Regions from separate parts of the Homo sapiens genome. Here regions 2, 3, 4, 5 and 6 are each linked to region 1. Evidence: fine-mapped expression QTL. A gene starts in region 1. Each other region holds a variant in brackets. All regions are shown on one strand. Distances are from middle to middle.

Region 1 (4,105 bases):
AGTAGAGACGGGGTTTCTCCATGTCGGTCAGGCTGGTCTCGAACTCCCAGCCTCAGGTGATCCGCCCGCCTTTGCCTCCCAAAGTGCTGGGACTACAGGCTTGAGCCACTGCGCCTGCCCTAAGAGGCCTTATTCTAAAGTCAAAAGAACAACCTGGATTTGAGTTCCCCAGCTCCATAATTAACTGGCTGTTATTTTGGGTCAGTCTTAACTACTCTCCTCATCTGTAAAAATGGGGGTGGTCTGGCCAGGCGCGGTGGCTCACGCCTGTAATCCCAGCACTTTGGGAGGCCGAGGTGGGTGGATCACCTGAGGTCAGGAGTTCGAGACCAGCCTGGCAAACCTGGTGAAACTCCATCTCTACTAAAAATACAAAAATTAGCTGGGCGTGGTGGTGGGCACCTGTAATCCCAGCTACTCGTGAGGCTGAGGCAGGAGAATCACTTGAACCCTGGAGGCAGAGGTTGCAGTGAGCCGAGATCATGCCATTGCACTCCAGCCTGGTGACAGAGCGAGACTCCGTCTCAAAAAAAAAAAAAAAAAAAAAATGGGTATGGTTCAACATGCATTGAGTGCTGGCATTGTGCTTCTAGACTGTGAACTTGAGGTTGGGGCCATTTTCTCTGAGTCCCCAGCACCTTGCATAATGCGATATAGGGTGTACAATAAACATGTGTTGAATTTATAAATATTTAGCATCTGCCTTATGCCTATAATTGATTAGTACTGTGATACAAAGATGAAAAATGAAACAGGTATGTAATAAGTGCTACAATAAGGATGTCGACAAATGCAACGGTAGCAAGAAAGACAAAAACAGGACTAACCATTGGGTTTGGTCAGATGATTTCATAAGCAAAAAGTCTACCACTAGTGGAGAGTGGGGCCACCAGTCAGATTATAGTGAAATATAAGTGGTCGTGTTGCATAAAGCATCAGTCTCTCTCTCTCTCTCTCTCTCTCCCTCCGTCCCTCCCTCCCTCCCTCCATCTCTCTCTCTCTCTCTCTTTCTTTTTTTTTGAAACAGTTTCACTCTTGTTGCCCAAGCTGGAGTGCAATGGCGCAATATCGGCTCACTGCAACCTCCGCCTCCCAGGTTCAAGCAATTCTCCTGCCTCAGCCTCCCGAATAGCTGGGATTACAGGCACCCACCACCACACCCGGCTAATTTTTGTATTTTTAGTAGAGATGGGGTTTCACCAAGTTGACCAGGCTGGTCTCCAACTCCTCATGTCTGGTGATCCACCTGCCTCGGCCTCCCAAAGTGCTGGGATTACAGATGTGCGCCTCGGTGCCTGGCCACATCAGTCTTTTTTTTTTTTTTTTGAGACGAAGTCTCGCTCTGTCGCCCAGGCTGGAGTGCAGTGGCACAATCTCGGCTCACTGCAACCTCCGCCTCCCGGGTTCAAACGATTCTCATGCCTCAGCCCAACGTTAGATTGGTTTTTCCGAGCCTGTGAACTCCATGGGGTCGCCAGATAAACGCAATCCCGGTGGACCAACGCCCAGGACAGACGCTACGTACCAACCCTGTGTCAAGCCGCAGGCAGCGGTTCCGGACTCTGGGACTTAACCTAACGTGGCGGGGCGGGACTTCCGGCGGGAGGCGGAGGCGGAGGCGCAGGCGCTGGCTGGCAGGTGTCGCTAACCGGACGGTGGTCGCCAGGGCGAGAGGCGGGAGCCGGAGAGGTGAGGCAGGACCCGGGCTCCACTGCCGCCTCTCCGAGCTCTTGTGACGCGGACCTCAGTGCCAGGATGGCTCGGGGCGAGCGGCGGCGCCGCGCAGTGCCGGCAGAGGGAGTGCGGACAGCCGAGAGGGCGGCTCGGGGAGGCCCCGGGCGACGGGACGGCCGGGGCGGCGGGCCGCGTAGCACGGCTGGAGGAGTGGCTCTGGCCGTCGTGGTCCTGTCTTTGGCCCTGGGTATGTCGGGGCGCTGGGTGCTGGCGTGGTACCGTGCGCGGCGGGCGGTCACGCTGCACTCCGCGCCTCCTGTGTTGCCTGCCGACTCCTCCAGCCCCGCCGTGGCCCCGGACCTCTTCTGGGGAACCTACCGCCCTCACGTCTACTTCGGCATGAAGACCCGCAGCCCGAAGCCCCTCCTCACCGGTAACCGGGCCCCAGGGCGGGCAGGCAGGCGGACTCCTAATCTGGGCGCCCCAGCTTGAAGCGAGAGCAAGGGTGGGAAGGAATGGATCAGGAGAGTTATGAAGAGGGATGACCCGGAGACCCGGAGGGACAGGTCCCCTGCTCTTTGACTTACGTGGCCATTCTACCCCCAGGACTGATGTGGGCGCAGCAGGGCACCACCCCGGGGACTCCTAAGCTCAGGCACACGTGTGAGCAGGGGGACGGTGTGGGTCCCTATGGCTGGGAGTTCCACGACGGCCTCTCCTTCGGGCGCCAACACATCCAGGATGGGGCCTTAAGGCTCACCACTGAGTTCGTCAAGAGGCCTGGGGGTCAGCACGGAGGGGACTGGAGCTGGAGAGTGACTGTAGAGCCTCAGGTCAGGGCCTCAGGACACCCTTTTCTCAGCCCAGACCCCCTCCATCCTTCCCTTGCTGCCAGCAAATGCAGCATGAAGTGGGCTCTGGCTGCCTGGCTTAAATCCTGCCTTAAACAACTGCCTGTATAACCATTTCTATTTACCATCTCTAAGCCTTGATTTCCTTGCTTGTAAAATGTACAATGTAGATAATAATAGCACTTAACTCACAGGACTGTAAGAATTAAATGAAAAAGAGGCTGGGCGCGGTGGCTCACGCCTGTAATCCCAGTACTTTGGGAGGCCGAGGCTGGCGGATCACCTGAGGTCAGGAGTTCCAGACCAGCCTGACCAAAATGGAGAAACACCGTCTCTACTGAAAATATAAAATTAGCCGGGCGTGGTGGCGCATGCCTGTGATCCAAGCTACTTGGGAGGCTGAGGCAGGAGAATTGCTTGAACCAGGGAGGTGGAGGTTGCGCTGAGCCGAGATCGTGCCATTGCACTCCAGCCTGGGCAACAAGAGCAAAACTCCATCTCAAGAAAAAAAAAAAAGCCAGGCGCGGTGGCTCACGCCTGTAATCCCAGCACTTTGGGAGGCTGAGGCGGGCGGATCATGAGGTCAGGAGATGGAGACCATCCTGGCTAACACGGTGAAACCCGGTCTCTACTAAAAATACAAAAAATTAGCTGGGCGTGGTGGCGGGCGCCTATTGTCGCAGCTACTCGGGAGGCTGAGGCAGGAGAATGGCGTGAACCTGGGAGGCGGAGCTTGCAGTGAGCTGAGATCGCGCCACTGCACTCCAGCCTGGGCGACAGAGCGAGACTCCGCCTCAAAAAAAAAAAAAAAAAAAAAGAATTAAATGAAATCAACTGTGTAGAGTTCTTAGTGTAGGACATAGTACAAAAGTATACTGTTATCTCCCAGGGCACCCAGTGCAAGGCTCTTTATCTCATCCCGCTTGGGTGTACCTGGTTACCCTCAGTGACCCTCATTACTGCCAGACGTATGTTGTTTACATTACCCCTGCCTACTGTTCCTTTCCCTCACTAAGGCTGATTCTCAAGAGGGAATTCAAGAGAGAATGCCAATCTAACACTGTTCTTTTCTGTCCTCGTTGGTCACTCAGGACTCAGGTACTTCTGCCCTCCCTTTGGTCTCCCTGTTCTTCTATGTGGTGACAGATGGCAAGGAAGTCCTACTACCAGAGGTTGGGGCCAAGGGGCAGTTGAAGTTTATCAGTGGGCACACCAGTGAACTTGGTGACTTCCGCTTTACACTTTTGCCACCAACCAGTCCAGGGGATACAGCCCCCAAGTATGGCAGGTAACTGGGGGAAAAGAATGTTGGGGGATGGAAGGGGTGGTTATTCCCATTTTCACCAGTCTCCATGTCCCCTGCCTGAGACCTCCCAACCTGACTCCTGAACACTTTGTATTTCTCTTTATAATGCCCACTGCCTTCTCTTGAATAATATTTCCTATTTATCTTCTCCCCTTCAAGCTACAATGTCTTCTGGACCTCCAACCCAGGACTGCCCCTGCTGACAGAGATGGTAAAGAGTCGCCTAAATAGCTGGTTTCAGCATCGGCCCCCAGGGGCCCCCCCTGAACGCTAC
Region 2 (4,000 bases), 190 kb after region 1:
ATTTTATTATGGAAAATTCAAATTTATACAAAAGTAGTATATAGCAGAATGAACCCCCACCTGCCCATCACCCAGCTTCAACAGTTAACAGCTAACTCATAGCAATTCTTGTTTCTCTGTCCCCCACCTACTACCCCAGACACACAGACACACATGCTAGGTCAGGTTGACACAAATCCCAGACACCACATCATTCCATCTGTAAATATTTCATTATGTCTCTAAAAGATAAGGCCTCTTTCTTTCTTTTTAGAGATAGGGTCTTTCTCTGTCACTTCAGCTTCATTGCAGTGGTGCGATCACAGCTCACTGCAGCCTCAAACTCCTGGACTTAATCCTCCTACCTCAGCCTCCTGAGTAGCTGGGACTACAGGCATATGCCACCACACCTGGCTAATTATTTTATTTTTTGTATAGTGGAGTCTTGCTTTGTTTCTCAGGCAGGTCTCAAGCAATCCTCCCACCTCAGCCTCCCAGAGCGCTGGGATTACAAGTGTGAGCCACCATGCCCGGCTTCTGAGTATTTTTAAATATACTTAAACAAAATGAGTTTTAAGCTTTTTTTCCCCAGTCATTTCCTCATAGCGAGATCTCACCCAAAGTGATCAGTGAGGTCTTGCTACCCTCAAGCAGAAGGGAGCAAGCATTTAATGCAATTGATCTGGGCAGGAGACCATAAGGGGACACCAGAGAGGAAGAAATGGCACCTGTCTTCAAAAAGCTTAATGTATATTTGGCATTTGTTATATACCAAAACAATCATAAAACATGATTGGCTACAATTAATTATTAATTTAGGCACTGAGCCTGAATTAATTAATTATTTTAGGCTCTGAGCCTAAGAAGTTAGAAACTTTACCTAGGATAGTCTGGAGCACAGAGTTGCCTGGATCCCACCCGTTTTTATTCTGATGTCAACTGGTCTAGGATATGACTGAGACATGAAGATTTTAAAGGCATCTAGGGTATTCTTATATGCAAGCAAGCTTAAGAATCACTGTCCTAGAACAGTGGTTTCTAAAGTGCTTCAGGTTGAGAACCATCCTAGGGTGTTATAGGAGAAATAAGCAGAATAACTGGCAGAGGCTTTGTGGAGGAAGGGGCATTCTCGCTGGGCAGTGGAAAACAGAGAGGAAAGAGGACATTCTACATGATCTCAGAGGTGATCTGCAGACCAGCAGCATGAGCACACCTAGGAGCTTATTAGAAATGTAGAATCTTTGACCTCATTCCAGACCTGCTCAATGAGGATCTGCATTTTGACAAGATCCCCATGCACATTAGAGTTTGAGGCACACTGGTGTAGTAGAATATGTACTGTAAATGGACTTCAGTTATAAAATCAGAGAAACTAAAGCATAGCATGACTGTGCTAGAAAGGAGACCCTTTCAGCTAGTGTTCTTGGAGCCATTCTAAGGGAAAGAGGCCATGTCCTGCTGTATAATGAGAATCAGATCCATGTGAGCTACGTTTGCCTGCGTTGGGACCCCATATAAGTTGAACTATCCCTAAGTCACACCATTCTATGTACCTACAGAGCAGGGGCTCCTGAACCCACAGGGTGCAGTCAGATAACCCGGGAGTTTCCATGGCAGGGTCACCCTCCTGGTGGGGTAACCATCCAGGCATTGGTTTTTGTTTTGTTTTGTTTTGTTTTGAGACGGAGTCTCGCTCTGTCATCCAGGTTGGAGTGCAGTGGCATGATCTCTGCTCACTGCAAGCTCCGCCTCCCGGGTTCACGCCATTCTCCTGCCTCAGCCTCCTGAGTAGCTGGGACTACAAGCGCCTGCCACCACGCCTGGCTAATTTTTTGTATTTTTAGTAGAGACAGGGTTTCACCATGTTAGCCAGGATGGTCTCGATCTCCTGACCTCGTGATCCGCCTGCCTCTGCCTCCCAAAGTGCTGGGATTACAGGCATGAGCCACCGCGCCCAGCCCCAGGCATTGGTATTTTTATAAATCTCTCCAAGTTATTCTAATGGACAGCCAAGGTTGAAAACCA[T/C]TGCTATGGATCTTTGGTCCTCCATGTTTCCTTTTCCATTCAAGGTGAAAGTGAGCTAAATTTCTAGCTGTAGCCATTGAAAACACAAAATTAAGTTCCAGGTAGCAAGCTTAATGGTTCAACATCTGGATTCCCAAAATAGTTATAGAGGGGACTAGAGCGGTGTCCCTAGTTAAATGGTCTCATATTCCGGAATTTCTTAAATCAAATTTTCTGGATTCTGGTAGCAGAGTCTAGTTCTGGCATTGGCTTAAAATTGGAGACAAGTAATTTAGTGTTTATGCAGGCTATTCTCATGTGGGTTATCGCCCTTGTCTGTGTGTCTATGGGGTTAATGTTTGGTGTATGCCTAACACAGTACAAATAGTTGAAGTCCTGAGAGGTGGAGAGGACTGCATGTCTTTGCTATCTGCTATCTGGAGTTAGTAGAGGATGTTTCAAAGAGGAAGCATTGCTCTTATCACTCCTTCAGGTGGAGTTGCATTTGTATGGGCAGAAGACTGAAGAATGGGATGTCAGGGGAGAGAGCTGCCTGAGACTGTCTGGCCTAGGATGTTTGTGAGACAGTGAAGACAGCAACCCACTCAACTGGCCCCATGCACTGGGCCACATCACACCTTTAGGTGGGTGGGTAAGACCATGGAGTAGCAAAAGAGTCTTTGGGAGCAGGGTGACAGTTCAGTTTATCTTTTGTATTATTTTTGAGAAAAAAAAAACAATAAAAGGCAAGCTGAATAGGAGGTCGATCCTCAGGAAGAAAAGTTGAGCATCCTCTCAACTAAAACATTTGGACTGGCCGGGCGCGGTGGCTCACGCCTGTAATCCCAGCACTTTTAGAGGCGGAGGTGGGTGGACCACCTGAGGTCAGGAATTTGAGACCAGCCTGACCAACATAATGAAACCCTGTCTCTACTAAAAAACAAACAAACAAACAAACAAACAAACAAAAAACAAACAGCCGGGCCTGGTGGCAGGCACCTGTAATCCCAGCTACTCAGGAGGCTGAAACAGGAGATCACTTGAACCACGGAGGCAGAGGTTGCAGTGAGCCAAGCTTGCACCATTGCACTCCAGCCTGGGCGATGAGAGTGAAACTCCGTCTCAAAAAAAAAAAAATTTTGAACTTATCCTTTGGTCTATTCCTTGTAAACTCTTATGTTAATATACCTTTTAGAAACATCTTACTTTCGATATCACATAGTCTTGGATCTGCCATAATTTAAATGATATTTCCCAAACAGATTTCTCCACAAAAAGGTCAGCTACAACTTGTCTGCCTGGTCTCTGGCTCCAGCCCCCATGTTTCAGGTCTTCACCTCCCAGTCCTTCTCTAATTAGATCTCCCCATTCTGTGTCCATCTGATTCCCCAGGATCCCACCAGGTGCCTGGTTAACTTGTCTCAAATAAATGTATGGAATGAAGGTGTTAAACATAGATAATGCAAAATATACAGTTACGTGAAGAGGAAATCTGATGAAGGAAAAGATGTTCAATCTCACTAGTAATCAGAAGAGTGCAAATGTGAGATAATTTTTCAACTACCAAATGAACAAAGGTGAAAAAGAATGAAAATACCAAAGTCTGGGAGACTTTAGGGAAATGTAAGATCTCATTGGTGGCAGTGGGCACTGACATAAGCTTTCTGGAAAACAGTTTGGTAATGCTTGTTATAAATGTAAAAATGTGCAGACACAGTAATTCCACTTCTGAGAGTTTATCCTAAAGAAATTGTGGAGCAGGAACCAAGGATGTTCCAACCAGCCTTAATTAATAATAAAGAATAATTAGAAATAATCTGAATGTCTACCAGTTGAGAACTGTTCCTATCAATTATGGTACATTCAGACAGTGGAATACTAGAAGGACTTCAGAATGATGTTAATACTAATAGAGATGAAAGGATGTCCATTAGATACTATACCCTTAAGGTCCTTGTGGTGCCATTAATGTACAGTTAATGCAAACACAGGCATATGTGCATGCATGCACGAGGAG
Region 3 (4,105 bases), 27 kb after region 1:
CCCCCGACCCTTGGAGTACACACCTCCTTCACTTGCATCCCAGCCCCAATCTCTGCCCTGCCCATTCCTGCTACAGCATGGTGGGGAGAGCCAGGCCTGCTTAAAGTGGGAAGAGGGACAGGTGGTTCCCTATGCCTTGTGTTGGGTGCAGTGTGTGGACCCAGGCTCAGTTCTGCCCATCATAGTCTTATGTTTGCAGCAGGGTCTTTACACCTATTTCAGGAAGCTCTGTGGGTGAGTGTAAATGTCTGTTCTGGGGACAAGGGTTCCTTTTAGGCATGGGAAGAAGAGAGGAGTTCAATGTGAGAGAGGTTTACAGAAAGGATGTAGCCTTGCTAGAGAAGAGAAGGACTCTGGGCTATGAGTAAGGATTCTGCTGGCCCTTGAGACAGCAAGGTGCTGTTTATTCGTGTATTTGTTTTTTTCAATTCTTTACAGAGACGAGGTCTCACTATATTGCCCAGGCTGGTCCTGGCTCAAGTGATCTCCCTACCTCGACCTCCCAAAATGCCGAGATTACAGGCGTGAGCCACTGCACCTTGCGCTATGTATTATTAAACACATGTAAATTTTATGTACTATCTGCCAAGCTCTTTTCGACCATAGGATACCTCAGTGAATAAGACAAGAAAGTTCCATTGTAGTGGGAGAACAGAAATATACATACGAACACATAAATAATATCACATAAAGAAATTATGATGAAAATGGGGATGTAATGAAAATCAGATGAGGGAGGCAATGTTAGATGTGGAGGTCAGGGGAAGCCTCTGTTGGGAGATCTTTGAGCTAAGCCCAGGAGGATTTGGAGATATGTGAAGACTGGAGGAAGGGCAAAGGCCCTGATATGAGGATGAGGGTAATATATTTGTGGGAAAGAGAGAGCCAGTGTGGCTGGAATATAGTAGTTGGGGTGGAGCTGATGGGCAGGGGCCAGATCATGCAGGGCCTTGAAGGCCATGATAAGGCACCTGGATTTCACCTTAAGTGTGATGTTGGGCCATGGAAGGGTTTTAAGCAAGGGAATGACTCATGCCATGTTTTTAAATGATGGCTGCTATGGAGAATAGGCTGGTGGGAAGTTGAGGGTAGGGTTGGGGGTGGAGGGTTGGCAAGAGAGTTCGCAAATGTCCACCAGGTGGGAGGCTGTTTCACTCCCACTTCAGGTGGGAGTGAACCTGGTGGTGTGAATTAAAATGCTCATGGTGGAGAAAGGGAGTAGATTTCAAATGGTGGTGGTAGGTCTGACAGGATTTGCTGATGGATTGGATGGGAGGGCAAAGAAAGAGAACTCCAGGATGATTCCCAGGTATGTGGCTAAGCAACTGGGTGGTGTGGCTGTTTACGGAGATGGGGAAGATGGAGGAAGTTGTGGAAGTGACTGCCTGGACCAGGCAGGGGCTGCTGCTGAGAGGTCAGAGGCAGGACTGCAAAGAGTCTAGATCAGGAATGGCAGGATATTGTATGTGCTGTCCCCCCTCAAGCCCTGCCCCCACTCCCTGGATCATAGTAGATGTTACTGGTCAATTTTGGCACTCTTTATCAACGAGCCCAGACCTGGCCTCAGAATCTTTCTCAGGACCGTCTTGGCATAAACTGTGCAGGTTGTGTCCTTCACACAGGTGCCAGCCAGAGGTGAGAGTCCTGGTCTGGTTTCAGCGGCATCAGGAGGGAGCACGTTTATCTAATTTGTTTGCCTGGAGAGGGTCAGCTTTTTCTAATTTGTGGAAAGGTGTCCAGTGAACTCGTTGGGACTCTACCTAATTATCCTCCATCAGTGCATGAGATAAAACCTATTTGCCATTCATAGTCCTCTGCACTGTCCACATCAGTTACATATGGCTATTTAAATCTTACTTTTAGTTCATTAAAATAAAACAAAACATTAATTCCTTAGTTGCTGTAGCCATATTTCAAGTGCTAGATGGCTACTGAACATTTCCATCACCGCAGAAGGTTTTATTGGACAGAGCTGGTCTAGGTATGTAAATGTTTAAATTCTGCATCCTACCCTCCTCCAAAAAATGTAAATTTTCTCTGTGGAAGGCCTGTTCAAGTTCTGGGGCAGAGGAGATGCTTAGTTTCACTTTGGTCACTCTCCTTTAGGAGAGTGGCTGAGGGTGCTGTGTTCTTTCTCAACCAAGTTCAGCAGGTCCTCAAAAGAGAGACCCATTGATGTTTCAGGGAATGGCAAAAGAGATAGTC[G/A]TGGAAGAGTAAATCCAAGAAGACTTTCTGGAGGAAGTGACTCAAGTTGCAAGTAAAGGGGGCTTATTTTAAAATATGTGCTAGGCCCAGGTAGAGATGAGACTTTCCCATATAATTCTCAAACAATGCTACGAAGGAGGTGGAATACTCCCCATTTTACAAACTCAGGTTCCAGGGGTCAAATTCTGTGGGCTTGTCAAGTCCCTAAACCAGGATTTGTACTTAGCCCTGGTGGAGATTCTGAAGGGAAAAAAGGGTAGTGAGAAGCAGAGCAGGAAGTCAGAGACTTAAGAGAGTGGGAGGGGTGGAAGGGATATCAACAGGGGGCCTAATGTGTGTGGGGCCCATGACTCATCCTCTAGCCCCTTGGGATCTGACCCGGGTCCAGCTGACACCCAGCTCTGCGCTCTTTCCCAGGGGAAATGCTGCCCGCTTGGGGAGAGGGTGTGTTTGGGTGGGGAGGGGGCAACAAGGAACTATCCCTGGGTTGGGGAAACGCTAGAAGCACAAGGGTCCAGATCCTGAGCCAGGATTCCCAGTTCCTCTGCCTGAAAGGGTGGGAGCCAGTTTCCTAGGGCGCTCCCGGCCTTGGGCCTTGGGAGAGTGGATTTGGGGCTGGAGATCAGTAGGGAAATAGAGGAGGTGTCTGGACTCGTGGTCCCACTCATCCATGCTGGGCCCAGTGACCTCCCTAGGGCCCCAGCTCTCCCAATTTATACACTATTCGCCCTCCATACTCTCAGGCAAGGGGTCACCTTGGAGGGCAAACGCTACGCGGGAGGGGCCTCCCGGAGCTGGAGCACGTCGTGAAGGCCAGGAGCCTTTTCCAGGGCGGCGCGGGCGCACTCCTGGAGGTCCGGTCCCGCCGCGATGGAGTCTCGGTGGAGGCACCGCCTTGAGCCAAGCCCAGCCAGGTGCCCGGAGGGACCTCCAGCGCCCTGGTACCCCTCAGTTGCTCTCGCGGCAATTGGGAGCTGATGTCACCGGCGTCCTGAGCGCTGCAGCTGGAGGCGGTGCAGCTATGCTGGCGCCCTGGCTCCTCCGATTTCCCGCGGCCCTCGGACCCAGCCGGCTCCCCAGGCCAGTGCAGCTCTCTGGACCTCGCGCGCCTCTGCGCGCCTCTCGCAATGGAGCGGGCTGGGGAAGGATCCGTGAGTGCTGGGACTGGGATGAGACTAGCCAAGATGGGGGTTGAGGACACCTCCGTGTCCCCCTCCTGCCAGGCTCACCCATTTGGGATGTTTGTGGCTGAAGCTGGGTGCAGACTGGGGTGGGGGTTGTCGGGCAGCGCAGAACCCTGGTGCAGACAAAACTAGACTGGGAGGACCTATGTAGTCTGAAAGGGCTTCCTGGTGAGGGGCTTTGGGAAAGGGTTGGCTTATTACAGAAGGAAAACGGGTGGATGGTGATGGGGGAAGGTGATAAAAGTCCGGCCTAGCACAGTGGCCCAGAAAATAGCCAAGGAAGCATCTGTAGGCAGGCAGGACAAGGCTTTTTAGAAGAGGGAATTTAGGGTGTTCGGGTCTGAGAGACTTGAAGGCTGGAGCCACTAGGGACAGATGCAAGGGCACAGTGTATGGAGGAGAGCTGGTGTGAGGAAAAAGACAGGTTTGGAGTGGTCACATTAGTTCCCCTGTTTCAAATGGATGGCTCGACTTGTCTCCTGAACCAATCTGTACACTGTGATAGAGTTAGTCTTCCAACTCCTCTCTGAAGCTTTCCTTGATCACCTCAGCCAGAAGCAAACAGAGGCTGTTTCTTGTGAGCATGGTTGTGCCATGACATGGCACTTATGGAGCAGCCATTAAAGTCATCATCTCTCACCTCCCAGCTGGATTTTAAATGTACAACCTTGGACAGTACAGGGATGCTCCAGTGTTGACTGAGTAAATGCTGCTAC
Region 4 (4,105 bases), 300 kb after region 1:
GGAAGAATGTTTTTATTTTATATTGTGTTAAGTTTTATTATTCAAGCTTTAAAAGAAATGAAAATAAACAGGAAAATTAAACTTACCTATGGCTCAAATGCTTTACACAGTGATGTTTTGTATAACTCTTGTTAATCCTTCTAGCTCGGCAAAGGTAAGGGGGGAAAGTATGCATGCCTAATGTATATCTCTAACACCTGGCCCCCAAAACAGAGTTTTATAATCTTGGGTCCATTGATGATAATAAATTGATGACCAAGAATCTCAGAAGAATGTAGTGGATCCATCGGCTCCATGCCCAGCCCTCAGCAACCTTCTGCTTTACAGGAATGCAGTTCCTTTGTGTTTCCCAGGGCTGTGTTGTTAATAAAACATCTATCCTGGCATTGCCTCCTGCCACATTATCTCCCTTTTTTCTTCCAGTTATAACTGTCACTTTCTGGATAATTACATAGGGAACTCACAGTAATCTTCAGTAGAACTTAAGGTGATTTATTAAAGTTAGATGTAACTTCTATTGACAAAATGTGAATGAACCTGTTTTAATCACAACTTGCACATTTGTTAATATTTTTGAAAAATTTATCAGTAAAACATTTTTCTCTTCAGATATGAATATCACTGGGCAGATGGTACTAATATTAAAAAGCCAATCAAATGTTCTGCACCAAAATACATTGACTATTTGATGACTTGGGTTCAAGATCAGCTTGATGATGAAACTCTTTTTCCTTCTAAGATTGGTGAGTTAACATTGTCGAAGTATTCTTTCTTTTTTTAAAATTTTATTTTATTAATATAAATAGAGTTGGGGGGGTTTGCTGTGTTGTCCAGGTTGGTCTCAAACTCCTGGCCTCAAGTGATCCTCCTGCCTTGGCCTCCCACAGTGCTGGGATTACAGGTTTGAGCCACCGTATCCAGCCTGTTTCTCTTTTTGAATGATAAATCTGCTCTTTTTAACATTGTTATACTTGTAGAGACTGCCAAATTCTCCTCCAAAAAGTTTGTACCAACATGTACTCCCCCCAGCCCTGTTTGTGTTTGCCAGTGTTTCTTCACCAACACTGGTTATTACTCATTTTTTAATATTTTCTAATTTGGTTAAATTTCTGTTTTAATATGCATTTAAAAAATGTTGATGAGATTGAGCATTTTAGCCTTTTTGTTTGTTTTATTGATCATTGTGTGTTTTCTGTTTATATCTTTCATCTATTTCTGTGTAAAGGATATTAGCGCTTTGTCGTATGTGTTGTATATCTTTTTCCCCGGGTTACCTTTTGTCTCATTTTGTTCATGGAGTATTTTTGCTGTACACAACCTTACTATTTTGTCCTATTATATCTTTTATGACTTGATTTTAATATAACAATTAGAAAGCTTTTCCCTGCTTCAAGATTATAAAAATATTTATTCATGTTTTCTTTTTTTATTTTTTTATTTTTTGAGACAGAGTCTCACTCTGTTGCCCAGGCTGGAGTGCAGCGGCACAATCTTGGCTCACTGCAATCTCCACCTCCCAGGTTCAAGCAGTTCTCATGCCTCAGTCCCTGGGTAGCTGGGACTACAGGCACATGCCACCATGCCCAGCTAATTTTTGTATTTTTAGTAGAGATGGGGTTTCACCATGTTGGCCAGGCTGGTCTTGAACGCCTGACCTCAAGTGATCTACCTGCCTTGGCATCCCAAAGTGTTGGGATTACAGGCATGAGCCACCACGCCTGGCTGGGAAGTTTTTTTTCCCTGAATGCTACATTAATTTTTTTCCAAATGGAAATACTAGTCAGTTTGTCCCATTACCATTTATTAAACACATTTGCCTTTTCTCCCCTGATTATCTTATGTGCACAACAAATTGCCATATATTTTTGCATGTTTTAGTCTCTTTATCTGTTCCTATAGAAATTCCACACGTTGGTGACTGTGGCTCTGCATCTGTTAGCATCTTGTAAGGCTGGTCTCCCTTCCTCGCTCTTCTTTTTCAGAATATTCACAGCTATTCTGGGATATTTGTTTTTCCAAAGAACTTAGAAACATTTTGTCAAGGTGAAAAAAAAATTAGATTTTAATTATGACTATATTTAATTTTTATAGATAGGGATTCTTTTTACTGAATCTTCCTAGCCAAGAACAAGATATTGTTCATTTATTCATGTCTTTAGCTTTATTTTCTCTTGTAAAATTCTGTAGTTTATGTCAGTTGTTCAAGTTTCTTAATTTTATTCTAGGGATTTTATGTCTTTTATTGATAATCTGGTTTCCAGCTGGTTATTTAGTATATAGGAAAGCTGTTGGTTTTTATTGTAATTTATTTTTAATTTTTTTTGAGACAGGGTCTCACTCTGTTCCCCAGCCTGGAGTGCAGGGGTGTGATCACAGCTCTCTGCAGCCTTGATCTCCTGGGCTCCAGTGATCCTCCCACCTTAGCTTCCCAAGTAACTGGGACTGTAGGCACGCACCACTACACCTGGCTAATTTTGTTTATTTTTTGTAGA[G/A]ATGAGGTCTCATTATGTTGCCCAGGCTGGTCTCGAACTCCAGGGCTCAAGCATCCCTCCTTCCTTGGCCTTCCAAAAGTGTTGGAATTACAGGTGTCAGCCACCAGGACTGGCCAGCTGTTGATTTTTATTTAAATTTTATAATTAACCATCAGACTCTTTTTCTGTTAGTTTTTGGTTGGTTCTCTTGAATTTTTAAAGTATACAACTGTGTCATATTAAGATAGTGTTCATTTTGTCTCTTCCTTTCTGATAATGTATTCTTGTTTTTACGCTTGCTTATCTGATTGCACTGAGTGGTATTTCAAGCGCAATGCCGAGTAATGGTGATGATGGCAGACATCCGTTTCTTGCCTTCTTACTATTATGCAAGTACTTCTAGTATTTCTGCAGTAAGCCGAAATCTTGGCTTTTGGTTAGAGGTGTATGGATTTTTAAAAAATTATATTAATGAAAAATATCCACCATTTATATTACAAAAATTGTTCTTAACGAGGAATGGCTATAGAGTTTATCAGATGCTTTTCCAGTATCTGTTGCCTATGACCATAAGGTTTTCTCCATTTTTTAATAAAAATATTCTGCTGGAAGAGTATTTGTTAATATTTTGATTAAGAGTTTGGCATCAGTATTCATGGATGAAATCACTCCTTGTCATTTTCAACTTAAGAGTATTTTATGAGCAACATATTTTTGAATTCCTTTTTGCAGTCTTATAGAGGCTTTTCAGGACAACAGTTTTTTTCCAAGTTGTTAACATTTGGTCTGTTTGTTGTTGGTCAGTTTTTCCATTCTGCTATTAAACCTTTTATTTCCTTTCTCATATATCTTTATTTTATATTGACTGTGCTTGAATATATCTGTTAAATTCAGCTTGGAAAGTGTTTAGATTTAAACAAATTACTTATTTCTTTACTCATTAAAGTCTCTGCTTATGGAAGGTAAATAATTCTTTTGATTTATCCTCTTTTCTCTCTTTTTTGTTTGGAGACAGGGTCTCACTCTGTCACCCAGGCTGGAGGGCAGTGGCACAGTCTCGGCTCTACTGCAACCTCCACTTCCTGGGTTGAAGCGATTCTCGTGCCTCAGCCTCCAAGTAGCTGGGACTACAGGCGCCCACCACCACACCTGGCTAGTTTTTGTAGTTTTAGGTAGAGACAGGGTTTCACCATGTTGGCCAGGCTGGTCTCGAACTCCTGACCTCAAGTGATTCACCCACTTTGGCCTCCCAAAGTGCTGGAATTACAGGCATGAGCCACCATGCCTGGCTTTTTTCTCACTTTCTTGTTCTTAAATAATTCATTCTGATCCACCACCTCTTAATCCCACTCCCCTGCCATTAGGCTATTATCTGCATCTTACTTTTGCCAGTTATTTAGTCTCAGACAGAACTGTTTATCATTAATTTTTTACTAATATATGCACATTATTAATATCCTTTTATTAGAAAGATGCCCATTTATACATTCTGATAAAAAAAGATGTTTGATTTTGAAATCTACTTTTTTTTTTGAGACAGACTCTCACTCTGTTGCCCAGGCTAGAGTGCAGTGGTGCAGTTACAGCTCACTGTGGACTTGACCTCCCAGGCGCAAGTGGTCCTTCTACATCAG
Region 5 (4,105 bases), 52 kb after region 1:
GCCGTGAAACGCCTGGACCCTGCGAGGCTCCCGTGCCACTGGGTGCGCCCTCTGGCTGAGGTCCTGGTCCCAGACTCTCAAACACGCCCCTTGGAAGCCTACCGCGGACGCCAGCGGGGCGAGAAGACCAAGGCCCGGGCCGAACCCCAAGCCCTCGGCCCCGGCACCCGTGTCTCCCCGGCAGCGTTCTTCCCTCTCCGGCCAGGCATTCCTTTCCGTGACTTGGACTCGGGCCCCGCACTCCTGTTCCCCACTTTAAATTTAGGCCTATCGTCGCCATCCCTCGAGTCAAAGCTGCCACTCCCAAACTCCAGGATCCGCTTCCTCACCACACACCCGGTGCTCCCTGATGTGGCCCGCAGCCGCAGCCCCAAGCTGTGGCCCAGTGTCAGGTGGCCCAGCGGTTGGGAGGGGAAGGCCGAGCTGCTGGGCGAGCTGTGGGCTGGCCGGACCCGCGTGCCTCCACAGGGTCTGGAGCTGGCAGACAGGGAGGGCCAGGATCCTGGCAGATGGCCTCGAACCACACCCCCGGTCCTTGAAGCCACTTCCCAGGTGATGTGGAAGCCCGTGTTGCTGCCAGAAGCCCTGAAGCTGGCCCCTGGTGTGAGCATGTGGAACCGGAGCACCCAGGTGTTGCTCAGCTCTGGTGTGCCTGAACAAGAGGACAAAGAAGGTAGCACCTTTCCTCCCGTTGAGCAACATCCCATCCAGACAGGTGCCCCAAAGCCCAGGTGACCGTAGCACAGCTAATGAAGAACTCAGCCCCCAAAGTGTGGTCACGCTCCTCTAAGCCTGCTGCCTCCCTCTGATCCCTGAGCCTCTGGCAGTAGTAACTGGTCCCTCCCTCTGCTAGCCAGAAATAAACACCTGAGTTGCCTTAGGAACTAGTCTGATGTCTCTTGTCAGTTTCTTCCAAGGGTGTCCACCCTCTCACTGAACCCCAAGGGGAGCAGTTATCCTGCAGGCCTAGAAGAAGATAGAACCAGGGTTCAGGAAATAACCCTCTCGCCACCCTTAGGAGACCCTGCATTAGGGCCAAAGCTGCCCCATTGCAGAGGCATTCTAGAGAAACCCCTGTCCCCCAAAGGAGTAGACATAAGGGCTGCCAGCGGGTCTGGCTCTGTAGAGAGAACTTCGAGTCTCCTTTCAGTAGGGGAGGAAGGAGAAGGCCCCGCATAAGCACAGAGTGATTCGAGATATGAAGAACTTGATTTCTTGCTTCCCTGGTCCCTGGAGCTTGGTCACTTCACCTTAGACTGCAAATCCAAATTTCACTTTTGAAGTTAAGGAGGAACTCTCAAACTCAAACAGTATATTGAACAAACTCAAGAGTCAGTGCCTCCTTAAATTTTATCTTAGGCTCCACACCTGCCTCATTGCTAGTCTCCACTCTGCCCAGATTTATCCTGCACCCACTTCCTCCTACAGCATTTCCCCAGCAGGCCCAGGAAGTTTCTGCTATGTTGCTGTGGGCTGCACTCAGCATCCTGGTCTGGGGCGCTGGCTCTGTCTTCCTTATTCTGGTCTTCTTCAACTACATGTGCAGCTCTGGCAGAAGTCTCATCCCTGGGACCTCCAGTGCTGCTCCACAGATCTGACTGGGAAAATAGCCATAGTGACTGGGGCCAACAGTGGTGAGTGCTCCTCCCACCCTGAATCCTCACTATGGGCCTCAGCCTCCAACAACTCTCACAGGGAAGGCAGGGAGGAGCATCCACTATCAACACCCTTGTCCCTCCCCTAGAGTGTCCCTTGTTCACTGTAGTCACCACCCAGCCGAAGTTGTCCTCCCACAGGCATCGGGAAGGTTGTATCCCAGGACCTAGCTCGGTGTGGGGCCCAAGTGATCCTTACTTGTCAGAGCAGGGAATGTGGACAGCAAGCCCTGGCTGAGATCCAAGCAGCCTCAAACAGCAACCGCCTCCTGCTTGGCGAGGTGGACCTT[A/T]GCTCCATGACCTCTATTCGGAGCTTTGCCCGGAGGCTTCTACAGGAGAATCCTGAGATACATCTGCTGGTAAACAATGCTGGAGTCAGTGGTATGTGCCTGGCTTGCTTCTCCAAACATGTTTCTGCAGTCTCCTTTCTAGCTCAGGAACTCTAAAACAGGTATCCTCAAAGCCTAGTCTATGCAATCTTGCCAAAACACTAATCCATACCCTCCCCTAAAAAGCTGACATTGAGTTATAGCCTTAAACTTCATTGCCCCCATCTTCACATGTATGTGCCCCTGTGGCATTTCTGCTGAAGGTAATATGTCCCTCCCAGACCTTGTCTCCCTCAAGGTGGTCCCTTTATCACTCAATGCCAGTGTTTTCATTTCCTCCCAGGATTCCGAAGACACTTACCCCAGGGGGCCTGGATCTCACCTTTGTCACTAACTATGTTGGGCCCTTTCTGCTCACAAATCTACTCCAAGGTAAGGAAGGATGGGCACCTTCTGTGCTGCCCTCTTCCCTATACCCCTGGCATTCTAGTAACTGTCTCCCAGGACCACCTCTTGCCTCTTGGCACCCAGCTGTTTGCTGAGTGGTGACCCAACACACTTTTTGTGTCACACATCAGGGAAGCCCAGCTGGCACAAGTCAGTATTAGAAGGCTGATAGAAGAATCATTCAGCCCAAAATATAATCAGCAAGGGGATATGAGATCCCAGACCTCCTTCTCCCATCCCCTAGTTCTAGCCAGACCAGTAGAGTAGTTTTTGCAATGAAGGCTTCTTGAGGGGGACACTAGGCACCAGAAACAGAGAAAGCAAGAAGACTCAGTTTCTGTTCTCAGGGTCGGCCAGAGGTGTAGGCCATACAGATGATACAGTTGATACATTACTGCCTTGGGCCTAAGTCCTTTGAAGAGGCCCTTTCTGATTGAGAAAGTTTGGCTCCTCCAGGGAAAGTTTCGGGGAGTGGGTGGCAGGAACATTCTCTCTGACATTTTCTCCTAGATTGTATAATAGCCCCTTTATTATTATTATTATTTTTTAATTACTCATCCCCTTGCAATGTGATAGCCTCCTTAAAAGAAAAGCAATTTTTCTTTTGGTCAGGTAATACATATCCAAAGTACAAAATTGAAAGTGTACAAAAGGATACAGAGGGTTTTTTTTTTTAAACTATTTTTCTCTTCTGGTACATAAGCCACCTGTTCCCCTCCTGAGAGGCAACTACTGTTGCCGGAGTCTCACGTATCCTTTAGCAGTCAACTAAATTAATCCCAATTGGAAAGTGAACAAAGGCAAAACTCTATGCACCTGCAAGTATGATTGTTTTTGTCCCTTTCCACAAATTGTAACATGTCACGACACTATCTGCATCTTGCTTAGTGACAGTTTCTTAAACTTCTTTCCTGTCTCATCTTCTCTAATCTATTCTCCCCACTGCCACATCGAGTAATCACCTTTCATCATGACACTTTCTTGCTTAAAATCCTTTGAAGGTAACCTCTCCTTTGTAGGATGAACTCTAAGCCCCTTCTCTACACTTAGAAGGCTGTGTGCTAGGCTGGGTGCAGTAGCTCATGCCTGTAATCCCAGCACTTTGAGAGGCTGAGGTGGGCAAATCACCTGAGGTTGGGAGTTTGAGACCGGCCTGATCAACATGGAGAAACCCCGTCTCTACTAAAAATACAAAATTAGCTGGGCGTGGTGGTGCATGCCTGTAATCCTAGCTACTCGGGAGGCTGAGGCAGGAGAATTGCTTGAACCCGAGAGGTGGAGGTTTCAGTGAGCCAAGACCGCGCCATTGCACTCCAGCCTGGGCAACAAGAGTGAAACTCTGTCTCAAAAAAAAAAAAAAAACCCTCTGCTGACTAAGAGCCTTGCCTTTTGCCCTTCCTTAACCCACCTCCTAGTCTCCAGCCAGACAATCTGCAGCTCTTGGACCACGGTCTGTTTTTTTTCACCCTCTGGCTGTGTTTTTGCACATACGGTTCCTTCTATCTGGAATATCCTTTCTCATCATGTTGGCCTGGCTAACTTTAGTTCACCTGCCAAGACGCAGCACAGATATCACCTCTGCTGTGGATCTTTCCCCAACCTTCACCTCCCCCAGTCACCCCTATTTATGGGGCTCCATTAGCCCCCTTGTACATATCTCTGTGACTGCACTGA
Region 6 (4,105 bases), 180 kb before region 1:
GAGGGAGAACCATTGAATCGTTTATCACGCGACAAAGTGAATGAGGGCTTGTAAAGGGGCCCTAACCTAGAATGCTCAGCACGGAACAGAACATCCGCAGAGGCAGACACAGCGAGAAGCCGATCTGTGAGAGGTGGATCTCCCGGGGTGCGGGCAGGGGAGGGCCTAGTGTGAGGATGGAGAGTTGGGCAGAAGGCACAAGCAGAACTTTAGGGCCAGGGTAAAGATATTGGATTCTGTTTCCAGTGGTGTAATTGGAAGTCCTTGGAGGGTTTTTAGTTTGGGCATAACTTGGTGGTTTGGAGTGGTTCAAGGCCCAGTTCCAGTTTTAACCAGTTTGCAGGGAGAATTCATTAAGCGAGTGTTCTTGGCAAAAGTGGAGAGTATAGGGTCAGAATAAGGTCAGAGCCTGTTTAGTACTATGCCCAGACACATCAGATGCATGAATTGATGATGTTTGAGGATGTAAGGAAGAGAGCTGCCTCTTACCTCATTTAAAATACAGTCTTCCAATTGCACATTAGTGTGGGATTGAAAAATGACTGCAAGCTGAAACCATTCAAAGAGATCTTAAACACCAATGGGAAAAATTACAGTTGTTCTATAACCTTGAAAAATTGTCAAAACACTAAAACTTTCTTACTAACTGTATAGGGAAATGTAAAACAGTAAAACTATTTCATACACTAACTTAAAACATTAGAAACATTGAGAGCTAAAGTGTTTTATTTGTTGAAAAAAAACTCTCATAGTAAAACTTATGAGAGAGCAAACATTTTTTGTGTGTCTTGGCAAACTGACATACTTCTTTCTAAGTTTGGGTTAGTTTCCTACATTTTATCCTTTGTACCTTCAATTTTGTAAAATATCTCTGAAAGTTTCTTTAATAATGAAGCTTTTTGCCAGTGGCCCTTTCTGTAGGATGTCTTCATCCTTTTCATCACAATGACTTTCCTCAAGTATGTTGATAAGTTTGCCTTCACTAAATTCCTCTGGCTGCTTCTCTAGAGTCTATCAGGTGGAGGCAGTGTCAACACTCTCATAGTCAGCTGTTTCTCCTTTAACTCCACTTATGTTAGATTCAGATTTCACTCCTGGCATTATCATTTTTTATTTCTTTGCTGCTCCTTTTATCGGCTAGTTTCCTCTTTCAGTTTTTGTTTTTATAAAACATCACATGGGCTTATCACTAGGAGACAAGGAGGCGACACAACTACACACTTCTGTCTGTGCTTTAACTGACTAATGGATCTGCAGTGACGGGTCACCAACAGACTTTGAAAGAAGTGATATAATTAATTACTGATCATGATGCACTGATCACTATATTATATCAGTACGCTATATCAGTATACTATACTATTGATACTGATAACTAGTAATTCGTGAACTAAAGAGCTAGATACTACTTTATGTAATTACAGTTAATATTCCATGGTAACTGAAATTTGAACTGTGTTGTTGGAAGACTAGTGTTAATTAACTAAACTGTAGTAACTGAAATCTATATACTTGAACCATGCAAAATGAGGACTGCCTCTACTTTATTTTTTTATTTTTATTTTTTTCAAGGGTGAGCTGGTGATGTTAAACAGCAACTTTTATTAAAGCAGCAGTGTACAGCAGCAGCAGAGGTACTGCAACTGTGGAGCAGGGCTACCCCATAGGCAGTGTGCCCAGAATAGCAGCTCAGAGGTAGTTCAGCAGTCATAGTTATACCCAGTTTTAATTACATGCAAATTAAGGGGGAGTTGATGCAGAAATTTCTAGGAAAAGCATGGTAACTTCCAGGTCATAGAGTCGTTGCTATAGAAAGGGATGGTAACTTCTGAGTGTTGCCATGGCAATGGTAAACTGACAGGGCACACTGGTGGGCATGTCTTATGGAAAGCTGCTTCCACCCTCGCCCTGTTTAAGCTAGTCCTCAATTTGGTCTGGTGTCCAAGCCCTTCCTGCAGAGTTGAGTCCCGCCTCCTACCTCACTATCAAAACTAAACTCATACGTGCCTTATGGCCCAGCAATACTGTGTCCAGAATTGGTGGGTTCTTGGTCTTGCTGACTTCAAGAATGAAGCCGCGGACCCTGGCGGTGTTACAGTTCTTAAAGATGGTGTGTCCGGAGTTTGTTCCTTCTGATGTTCGGATGTGTCTGGAGTTTCTTCCTTCTGGTGGATTCATGGTCTCGCTGGCTTCAGGAGTGAAGCTGCAGACCTTTGCAGTGAGTGTTACAGCTCTTAAGGCGGCGTGTGTGGAGTT[T/G]TTCATTCCTCCCGGTGGGTTTGTGGTCTCCCTGGCCTCAGGAGCGAAGCTGCAGACCTTCACGGTGAGTATTACAGCTCATAAAGGCAGTGCGGACCCAAAAAGTGAGCAGCGGCAAGATTTATTGCAAAGAGCGAAAGAACAAAGCTTCCACAGTGTGGAAGGGGACCTGAGCAGGTTGTCCTGCCTCTACTTTAAAATGGCGTTTTCAGATGTGAGAGATGGAGATGGATAATTAAATTTAATTATACATTAAATAAGGCCTCTGACTACCTGTTTGTGTGAATTTCTCTGTGTCAGCTTCAAGTTCAGCATTCCATGTAGAAATTGGCCCCATGTACTTAAAGTACAGTTTAAAAATATGTTATGTGCTTTCTTGGTAAATACATTAGTAATTGATTTGGGTTTCTGGTTCAAGATGACTTTCAACAGATTAGCATATTAATTCATTTATTTTTCTAGCTGTATCCAGCACGTAATTGGAACTCAATTTTTAAAAATGTTGAATGAACAAATGCTGACTTCCACTATCCAAAAAGGGAAGTTTGAAGAGAATAACTTCACTGATTCATTTGGGGAAATACATCTATCTATGTATTTTTTTTTTTTTTTTTGAGACGGGGTCTCGCGCTGTCACCCAGGCTGGAGTGCAATGGCGCGATCTTGGCTCACTGCAACCTCCGCCTCCTGGGTTCCAGCGATTCTCCTGCCTCAGTCTCCTGAGTAGCTGGGATTACAAGCGCGTGCTACCACGCCCGGCTAATTTTTGTATTTTTAGTAGAGATGGGGTTTTACCATGTTGGTCAGGCTGGTCTCAAACTCCTGACCTTGAGATCCACCCGCCTCAGCCTCTCAAAGTGCTCGGATTACAGGCGTGAGCCACTGCGCCCGGCCTATCTATGTATTCTTAGATCATTTTTAAAGATTCTAAATTCCAAAGTGTTTCTGAAAATTATCATAATTATCTTTGTATTGTCACAGGGGAAATCAAATAAGCTTTAATTTTCCCTACATTCTTTAGCTAAAAACAATTATATAGAATGATTTTAGTTCTCAGAGGTGGGGACATATTTTTTAGCTATCTTTTTTATCATATTTCTTTTGTTTTCTTTTGATTGTCCTAATGTTCTTCTTGAAATATTTTTATTATTAAATATAACATATATACAGAAAATGTCATAAAACATGAATGTGTAGTTTAATAGTAGAAAGTGAATACCCAATATCCACAATAAAGATCAAGAAATAGAACATTAGGCTGGAAGTGGTGGCTCATCCCTGTAATCCCAGTACTTTGGGAGGCCAAGGTGGGAGGATTGCTTGAGCCCAGGAGTTTGAGACCAGCCTGGGCAACATGGCAAAACCCTGTCTCTACCAAAAAAACACACAAATTAGAGAGGCATTGTGGTGCATGCCTGTAGTGCCAGGTACTTAGGAGGCTGAGGTGGGAGGATCACTTGAGCCTGGGAGGTGGAGGTTGCAGTGAGCTGAGATTGGGCCACTGCTGCACTCCAGCCTGGGCGATGGAGCGAGACCCTGTCTCAAAAAAAAAAAAAAAAAAGAACATTACCAACACCCCAGGACCCCCTTCTTTTGTCTCTTCTCATCATAATGCCTTCATTCTTTCCTAGGGAAAATCACTACCCTCATTTTTGTGATAATCAATTCTTTGCTTTTCTTTATAATTTTATCACTGTGTATGCACCTCTAAACAATATAACTACTTTTGCTTATTTTTAAAATGTAGATGAAATCATGCTACATGTGTATGTATTCTTTGTGTCTTGCTGCTTTTACTCAATATTATGTTTCTTAGAATCATCCATGTTGCCACATGGAACTGCAGTTC

Which allele goes with the higher level. Alleles are on the strand shown, and positions count from the first base shown. SD is a standard deviation of normalised expression in the study named. Not every link is listed here.
For the expression in liver of the gene that starts at base 1,621 in region 1, allele A in region 3 goes with a higher level than allele G (moderate effect, 0.46 SD a copy in GTEx).
With allele A in place of G in region 4, the expression in CD4 T cells of the gene that starts at base 1,621 in region 1 is lower (large effect, 1.1 SD a copy in BLUEPRINT).

What was found. PIP is the estimated chance that this variant, and not a neighbour inherited with it, causes the effect. A credible set is the group of variants that fine-mapping cannot tell apart.
Region 2: its variant is the best candidate, but not a certain one, in a credible set for the expression of MOGS in prostate (GTEx, PIP 0.52).
Region 3: its variant is the best candidate, but not a certain one, in a credible set for the expression of MOGS in liver (GTEx, PIP 0.63).
Region 4: its variant is the best candidate, but not a certain one, in a credible set for the expression of MOGS in CD4 T cells (BLUEPRINT, PIP 0.58).
Region 5: its variant is the best candidate, but not a certain one, in a credible set for the expression of MOGS in thyroid (GTEx, PIP 0.57).
Region 6: its variant is the best candidate, but not a certain one, in a credible set for the expression of MOGS in lung (TOPMed, PIP 0.53).

What each region holds. Positions count from the first base shown.
Region 1 is chr2:74,462,898-74,467,002 of GRCh38, reverse strand. It overlaps MOGS (mannosyl-oligosaccharide glucosidase), which reads left to right and starts at 1,621. Exons shown (of 4, transcript NM_006302.3): 1 at 1,621-2,107; 2 at 2,281-2,507; 3 at 3,617-3,813; 4 at 3,991-4,105. The coding sequence starts at 1,756. RefSeq lists a silencer at 1,835-2,054.
Region 2 is chr2:74,268,331-74,272,330 of GRCh38, reverse strand. All of the region lies in intron 8 of SLC4A5 (solute carrier family 4 member 5), which reads left to right. Among named protein-coding and RNA genes, the nearest start is that of MTHFD2, 72 kb to the right of the region's middle. The variant T/C (reference allele first, on the strand shown) is at 2,005.
Region 3 is chr2:74,435,441-74,439,545 of GRCh38, reverse strand. The region is part of intron 1 of RTKN (rhotekin); the gene reads left to right. Among named protein-coding and RNA genes, the nearest start is that of RTKN, 4.4 kb to the left of the region's middle. RefSeq lists enhancers at 1-158, 2,293-2,972. The variant G/A (reference allele first, on the strand shown) is at 2,206.
Region 4 is chr2:74,161,856-74,165,960 of GRCh38, reverse strand. It overlaps MOB1A (MOB kinase activator 1A), which reads left to right. Exons shown (of 6, transcript NM_018221.5): 4 at 610-743. Among named protein-coding and RNA genes, the nearest start is that of MOB1A, 15 kb to the left of the region's middle. The variant G/A (reference allele first, on the strand shown) is at 2,493.
Region 5 is chr2:74,410,959-74,415,063 of GRCh38, reverse strand. It overlaps C2orf81 (chromosome 2 open reading frame 81), which reads left to right. Exons shown (of 3, transcript NM_001316764.3): 3 at 1-887. The coding sequence ends at 735. Among named protein-coding and RNA genes, the nearest start is that of C2orf81, 8.6 kb to the left of the region's middle. The variant A/T (reference allele first, on the strand shown) is at 1,946.
Region 6 is chr2:74,643,303-74,647,407 of GRCh38, reverse strand. The region is part of intron 1 of M1AP (meiosis 1 associated protein); the gene reads left to right. Among named protein-coding and RNA genes, the nearest start is that of M1AP, 3.0 kb to the left of the region's middle. The variant T/G (reference allele first, on the strand shown) is at 2,257.